Homo sapiens: one gene and its partner. Changing the gene in region 1 together with any one later gene gives a genetic interaction. Each region holds a gene or a part of one and is shown in the gene's direction. Other genes may lie near its edges. The genes, in order: PPP1CB and SMARCB1.

Region 1 (4,124 bases):
TTTAGTTTGACAGTGCCCCCAAGGGATTCTTAAATATTCTAGGTTTTTCAGCTCCTTCCCAGATCCAGACCTGTTGAAAGACTTGTCCAGAGCAGACTTGAATTTTCTAGTAAATAATTATTTTTAATCTTCAAAGAAAATTTTGTCCACCTGGATTTTCAGTGATATTAGATGCTAGTTAGTGATATTTTGTAAAGCTGCCTAGCAAGAATAACTATGGTTAGTGTTTTTAGTGTCAAATGAACGTGTAAGTAAAAATTTGGCAAGAATTTCTCTGCATTAGGGGAAAACATTCAGCAGGACCTGATCTCATTTTAAAATGCTGATTGTAGCCCCACAACATATTCCTGATTGTTTTTTCTTTTTTACTGTATTAAATCGCAGATCAGCTATACACACTTCTGGTGACTACATTTTATGAGTTGCTTTTTGTTTTTCTTTTTTAGGTGGGCGTATTATTGATAAGTTTTTTTTGTTTTTTGTTTTTTTGAGACGGAGTTTTGCGCTTGTCACCCAGGCTGGAGTGCGGTGGGGTGATGTTGGCTCACTGCAACCTCTGCCCCTGCAGGTCCAAGCGATTATTCTGCCTCAGCTTCCCAAGTAGCTGGGACTACAGCATGCCACCACGCCCCGGCTAATTTTGTATTTTTAGTAGTTTCACCATGTTGGCCTGGCTGGTCTCGAACTTTCCATCCTCAAGTGATCCACCCGCCTCGGCCTCCCAAAGTGCTGGGATTACAGGCATGTGCCACCGCGCCTGACCTTGATATGATATTTTCAAAGAGTCCTTTAGGTCATTTTAATACAAACATGCCATTTAATGTAAAACAGAAATATTGATTTTATTATTTGGACGGTGCATATTCTTTCGGTATGTTTTCTTGGATTAACTTTTGCTTAGAACTAAAAACCAAAGACTTCTACTTTATCCCCTGTAGTGACCCTGTTGGCCACATTCTTGTGGCTTACCATAGTGTTTTGATCATTTAAATTGAAGCTAGTTTGTATGAGTATTCTGGAAAATCCGGTAAAAGCTTCTTACTTAGATGAGTGGTTCTCAAAGAGGGGTGGGAAATGGGAGTATAGCAGAATCATCTGGGGAACTTCATTCAAACTATAAGTGCTAAGTTTATTTTGGAGGAAGTGAAGTGGAATGAGTAGAATCTAATGCATTTGGGAGGAGGTTAGTATGGAAAACTGCTGCTGGGTGAATAAGAGTGCCAGCTCTGTTCCCAACCACAGTCTTGATCCAGGTATTTAAAAACTGGGATGTGCCAGTTGATATAGTATGTCTATTATGTGTCATATATGTGATAATATGAAACTGTTTAGAATTTGCTTTTTCCTGATTATGAAAGGGCAGCATTCTTTCAAGAAGTCCCCTGTAATTCCACAATCCAGAGATAACCGTTGTTGAAATTTTGATATATTTTTGTTTAAAGATACTTAACATACTTTGTAAAATTCACATGCTTTACATCATTAGAATATTCTTTACATAGCTTTATGAGTTAATTTTTCATGTAGTATTACATCATGAACATTTTCCCTTGTCATTGAAATGTCTTCAAAAATACCGAAAAGCGATTTGCTGTGTGATAGAAAAGTTTTTCTTAAAGTATTTTTTAACATATTACCACGAAGCTGAACTTGACTATTACAATATGAGTTGTAGAATATTAGCACTGTGTAAAGTTCCATAGCAAAATGTGATTGTGTTACATTTTTGGCCCACTTACAGTTTTATGAAAATCGTGGGATGTGTTTGTACCTGTTTTGTTTTTTAAATTCATTTTTCATTTAACTTTGACCTGTCAGATGTCTGAATTTGTGACACTGCTTGTGATCTCTTAGTGCGTATCTCCCTTTTCTTTCTTGTGAAACAGGTATAGTACTCTTAAGATTTAGTTAGGCTGACAGACTACACTTTTAACTTTTCCTATTCAAGACAGGCTGGAATGCAGTGGCTTGATCATGGCTCACTGCAGCCTCGACTTCCTGGTCTCAATCGATCCTTCTGCCTCAACCTCCCTAGTGGATGGGACCACAGGCACATGACACCTTGGCTGGCTAATTTTTTTTATTTTGGTAGAGACGGGGTCTCCCTATGTTGGTTGCCCAGTCTGGTCTTGAACCCTTGTGCTCAAGCAATCCTCCAGCCTTGGCTTCCCAAAGTGTTGGGATTACAGGTGCGAGGTGCTGCGCCCAGCCTGTAGTGTCCTTTTGAAGGTTAAAAAAAATGAATGGATTTGAAAAATGAAATCGATTAATGAAAGCATATTAAAGCCCTCCATTTTAAAATGACAGCTTTATCCAGATATAATTCACATACCATACAGTTTGCCTATTTAGAGGATATGATTTTTAGTATACTATAGAGTTGTGCAGCCATCACCACAGTGAACTGTATAATATTTTCAAACACATATACCCCCCAAAAAACCCTGTTCCCGGTAGCAGACACCCCATTTCTCTCCATTCCCTCCCGGCCCCCACTAATCTACTTTTTTTTGTCTCTTAGATTTGCCTATTCTGGACGTTTCATGCAAGTGAAATCATACAATATGTTGTCTTTTGTGACTGGTTTCTTTTAATGTTTTTAACATTCATCTTTGTTGTAGTATGTATCAGTACTTTATTCCTTTTATGGCTGAATAATATTCCATTGTATGTATACACCACATTTTTAATTCATTCATCAGTTGATGGACATTTTGTTTTCTTTCGGCTATTGTGAATACTTGTAGTGCTGCTATCAACATTTGTGTAGAAGTTTTTTTTTGTGGGCATATACTTTCAATTCCGTTGGGTATATAGCTGGGAGTGAGATTTCTAGGTCATATGGTAGCCCTATGTTTAACTTTTTGATGAGCTGCCAGGTTGTTTAAGGCCTCTTTACTGATTAAATTGTTTAATTCTGACCCAGCAACCTAAAGGTTAGGTGGTTGGAAAGAAGTGTCAGTTGTTGCCGACAACCTCCACTTCTGTAGGGAAGGTGTTTTGTGTGGATGTGCAGCTAGACTTGTTAGAAAAAAGAGCATGTTGGGGAGTGGGGGAGATCACCCGAGGAATATTTTATCTCCTTGATTCTTCTGGATGAGATACTAGAGGAGACATAAGGTCGTGGCATATTTTTTAACTGATTCAGAGATTAGGTGTTTGTTTTCTCTGAATTAAGTTCAGCAAGTAAGGGAAACTGACAGTTTGAAGAAGTAGCCCAGAGGTGTTTTTATTTTGCTATCTGAATGCAGACCTGGAGCTTTTCTGGTAAATATCTAAATCCAAGATGAAGATTCGTTGGGATTTAATACATTATTTAAATTGAGTCTAGAGACAAAGCCACATTAAGAGTCAGGATTAGTGGGGAAGATAGTTGCATCTAGTAGGTCTTTTTCTTCCTTATTCTCCACGTTTATTACTTTTAAAAGAGTATACATTCCAATGCCATGCATTTTTAATTTTTTTTAATTAATTTTTTTTTTTTTTGGAGGCAGGGTCTGGCTCTGTCACCCGGTTGGAGTGCAGTGGCATGAACATGGCTCACCTGCAGCCTCAACCTTCTGGGCTCAAGTGATCCTTCTACCTCAGCCTCACAAGTAGCTGGGACCACAGGCATGCACCACTAATTAAAAAAAATTGGTAGACACAGAATCTTACTTTGTTGCCCAGGCCAGTCTCAGAGTTCTGGGATTACAGGCACCCAGCCCCATTTTCAAACATTTCTAACAGGTAAAGTAATACAGGTATGAAGGAATGTTAAGATTCTTAGAAATACTGACTTAAATTCTGTTATGTATTTCTGAAAGGTTATTCTCGAATGTTGGTGGCATATAGGGAGGCAAGGGGAAGAAATAGTTTGTAAATGTCAGTAGGTTTAGCAGTGGTGTGGTAGATGGGGATTCCCAGTGGAGTCTTCTAGGATTTGTGATTGGATACAGATTGATACCCTTAGGCAGCAGCCACTGCTTCTAGCAGCTTTAAATAGCCATTTCAAGGCTTATTCAAGTATAAATAACCAGTAGCCAGTTTTTTCCTGATTTGATAGAGGAAGTCAGTCCTTGGTCTAGATGGGTACTTGTCATACAGTAGGAAAAAGGGCGGGGGCAGTTGTCCTTTATTCTGCC
Region 2 (3,641 bases), on another chromosome or scaffold:
TGCCATTAACAGACAGCTGTATTTACCAAGCCGGAGTCATGGAGCTTTGAGGACCCTAACAGATCCCCAAGTCCAGCACCTTGATTTTATATTCAGGAAACCTGGGTCCCAAGAGGGTGAAGGCTGGTTCAGAGGAAAGCCAGGAAGGCAAGCCCAGTTTCCTAAGTTCTGAAGGGGCTTTGGGGGGCATCTAGGAGACTCAGAGCCCTGCAGGGCCTGCAAGGTAGTCATAGGGGGGAGTATTGTCAATTTCTTTTAAAAAACCTAATGGAAACTCTACATTTACCATGATACTGGATGATACTGACACACAAGCCAAATAACATAGAGGGGTCTGTGCCCTCTATGTGGAAAGCGAGTGACTTGCTGTGTCTGCTCTTCTCTCAGCGTTCAGTAGCCCTGGTTGTTGATTACAGTCACTGCTGAAAATGGAGAAACATTTTATTTAATACTATGCCTGGGTCTCACACCTATAATCCTAGCACTTTGGGAGGCCCAGGCAGGAGAATCACTTGAACCCAGGAGTTTAAGACCAGCCTGGGCAACATAGTGAGACTCTTGTCTCTACAGATTTTTATTTTTATTTTTTTTAATTAGGCCGGGTATGTGGCTCACACCCGTAATCCCAGCACTTTGGGAGGCCGAGGTGGGCAGATCGCTTGAGCCCAGGAGTTTGAGACCAGCCTGGGCAACATGGTGAAACTCCGTCTCTACAAAAAATACAAAAATTAGCCGGTTGTGGTGGCAAGCAACTATAGTCCCAGCTACTCAGGAGGCTGAGGCAGGAGGATCGCTTGAGCCGAGGAGTTCGAGGCTGCAGTGAGCTATGATCGATCGCACCACTGCAATCGAGCCTGGGTGACAGAGCGAGACCCTGTCTCAAAAATAATAATAAAAATTAAAAATAAATTTAAAAATGCAAAATATATACTATGTTGCGTAGATAAAATGGGAAACATAATAGAAGTGGTCCTTCATGGGGGTGAAGTTCAGAGTTGCTGAGCATTTGGCAGATGAGTAAAGGGTACCCAGAAAATGGGAAGTGATCCCAGGTTACAGATGGAGCCAGCACCTGGCACCCAGTCTATTGGCCATCCCCTGCAATGTGACTCCGAAGTGATCATACTTGAAAAGTCAACGAGACAATAGGGTACCCTCATAAAAACTTTAGGTCTAGATTTATTTTCCTTAAGGAAGTCACACTTTCAGTATTTGCTACAAGCAAACTGAAGCCATTGTTTGAGTCAGTGATGATTTATATAGCAGTCTGGTGATTGCCTTGTAAACCTTTTGGAAAATTCCTTTGGTATCCCTGGTTTGGGTTTTGTTACTAAACAAAGCAACACAGGCCATGGGGGAAATTATCTGGCATCTGTCTAAAATTAAAAGACCTTTTTGGTGTTTATTACATTGTAAAGATATCAAAGTCTTGTCCTTAAGATAAAAGAAGGTCAAGGAGGCCTTGCATTTCTGGAAAGTGCCAGAGATCCTTAGTCCAAAATCAAAATCACCACGAACTTCTTGCTAAGCTCTGGGGGCCTCCCACTCAGGCATCTGCCCAGGCCTTTCGGAACTTGGTTCTGTTGTCAGGATGCACATATGCAGGCCAGATGTGCACTGCTGGTGAACCCTTCATATCAGCAGAATGTGTTTTAATGCTGCCGAAAGCGTGGCGCCTGGGGGCCACCTCAAGGCCTGTTTGTCTGTTGCTTGATGCAGTCTGCGCCAGGACCCTCCCCTTCCCTGTGGTGCTGCGACCCTTATAATGAGCCTTCTTGCTTTACTCATAGGTGGGAAACTACCTCCGTATGTTCCGAGGTTCTCTGTACAAGAGATACCCCTCACTCTGGAGGCGACTAGCCACTGTGGAAGAGAGGAAGAAAATAGTTGCATCGTCACATGGTAAAAAAACAAAACCTAACACTAAGGGTGCGTCTTCACGAGGGTTTGTAAACCTGTTTCAAAACCACTCGCTTATGTCATGAAGATAAAACGTTTTCACTCCAGAGTGTCTTCACTGCAGCCTTGGCCTTAGTCGGGCAGGGAGCATCCCGGGGTGGGCCGCCCTGTGAGCACTCCAGGCAAGGAAGTGGCTCCAGGGAGCCATTGGTGGTCCACTGTCAGTTATTTCCAGCAGGGCCATTGGGTATGTGAGCGGGCCGGGGCCAGGACACTAGCAGGTGCTGTGAAGACATGTTGGTCTCAAAACGTTTTAGGAATGCTGCGATGCTCTGCCATCTGTCGTGGGTGTGTCGCCATAATCATCTTCCATGCAGCCCAAGTGGCGGGTGGTGGTCCCAGCTCCCACTCCCCTCTGGGGCTTTCACTGCTTGCTTCCTGGAGCACATCCATCCCATAGCACTTCATCCTGGCAGCCAGTGTGCTAGAGCCCATGTGCATGTCCCTGCTCCTGGTGGCCTGCGTGTGCCTGGGGCTTGCTAGGTACACTAGTGAAACTAGTGGGCTTTGGGTCACGGCAGCTCTGTGCAGGGTGAAAGGGTGCTCTTCAGACACTCTGGGGGCTCTGTGGGAGACACTCCCATGGAGACATTTGGGTGTGGACACAGCATGTCCTTGGGCAGGTGGCAAAACTGCTTCCCACGTGGCAATGGCGCCTTGTAGAGAGCTGCCCTGGGCCTGGGTGTGTCTGTGAGCATGTGCGCGATGCTTCGTAGTCTGCCCTGTTTGTTTGTGTCTGTAGGTGCTGCTGTGGTTTTGTCCACTGCGGGAAAGTAGTGGTTCTTTTAATGCAGGAGCCGGAGCTTCTTTTTGATCTGCTGCTATGACATTTCCACTCACTTGCTTAAAACAGTTTCCTTTTTGTTCCCCCTCCTCCCCTAGCAGAGCATCAGTCGCTAACACAGTGAGTCCCCAGCTTTGCTTCCCCCTCCGCAAGTCCCTGGGCTAAGTCTTGGGAGATACCTTCCCCATAAGCGATTGATTTCTCCAGGAGAAGCCAGACTGGGCCCACAGACAGGTAGCTCTTGACGGAGATTCCCCGGAAGAGCTAGGGGTCGAGCTGCCTAGAATCTGTCCTGCTTCCCAGGCAGCACGTGTGGACCGGCTCGGGGATAGAAATTCGTGTTTGGTGTGAAGCAGCTCTTTCCAACTCTCTGGGCTCTTGTTTTAAAAGAAAAGTATTCTTCATCTTCCATTCCATCTCCCCACCTTGCATCGTGTTGTGGATTGTGGTGGTGTCAGACCTCTTCCCACTGGGGTGTTACTCTGGGAGCTTTCTTTTCCCCTGAGTGAGGACCAAGAGAATATGTTCTGGAGTCGAGTGTCCCCGCTGGTCGTGCTGTATTGTAGTTGCTGGTGCTGCCCTGAGCACTTCCCTCTGCCCCGAGCCAGTGCTCCTGGGGCAGATTAGTCCAAATCAGTCCCATTGGAGGCTCTACCCAGCAGGACTTGTAAGTAAAGCACTCAGTCCAGATTGCCCTTTTGGAAGAGGCCAGCATTCAGCAGTAGTAAGTTTGACACCTTGCTTTTCCCACCTCCCGCATGCGAGGACCTTGATGTGCTGCATCCACTTGGCTGGCTGCTGTGTGCCACCGCCACCAGCAGAGTGACCCAGTGATGTTTGTCTGTTACAGATCACGGATACACGACTCTAGCCACCAGTGTGACCCTGTTAAAAGCCT

Evidence for each region.
Region 2: of PPP1CB (region 1) and SMARCB1, changing one enhances a phenotype caused by changing the other (phenotypic enhancement), as found in Homo sapiens cells (one study listed by BioGRID).

What each region holds. Positions count from the first base shown.
Region 1 is NC_000002.12:28,754,577-28,758,700, forward strand, and holds part of PPP1CB (serine/threonine-protein phosphatase PP1-beta catalytic subunit), read left to right. Parts: intron 1-4,124. UniProt on the Homo sapiens protein: Protein phosphatase that associates with over 200 regulatory proteins to form highly specific holoenzymes which dephosphorylate hundreds of biological targets.
Region 2 is NC_000022.11:23,789,966-23,793,606, forward strand, and holds part of SMARCB1 (SWI/SNF-related matrix-associated actin-dependent regulator of chromatin subfamily B member 1), read left to right. Parts: intron 1-1,790; coding exon 1,791-1,929; intron 1,930-3,593; coding exon 3,594-3,641.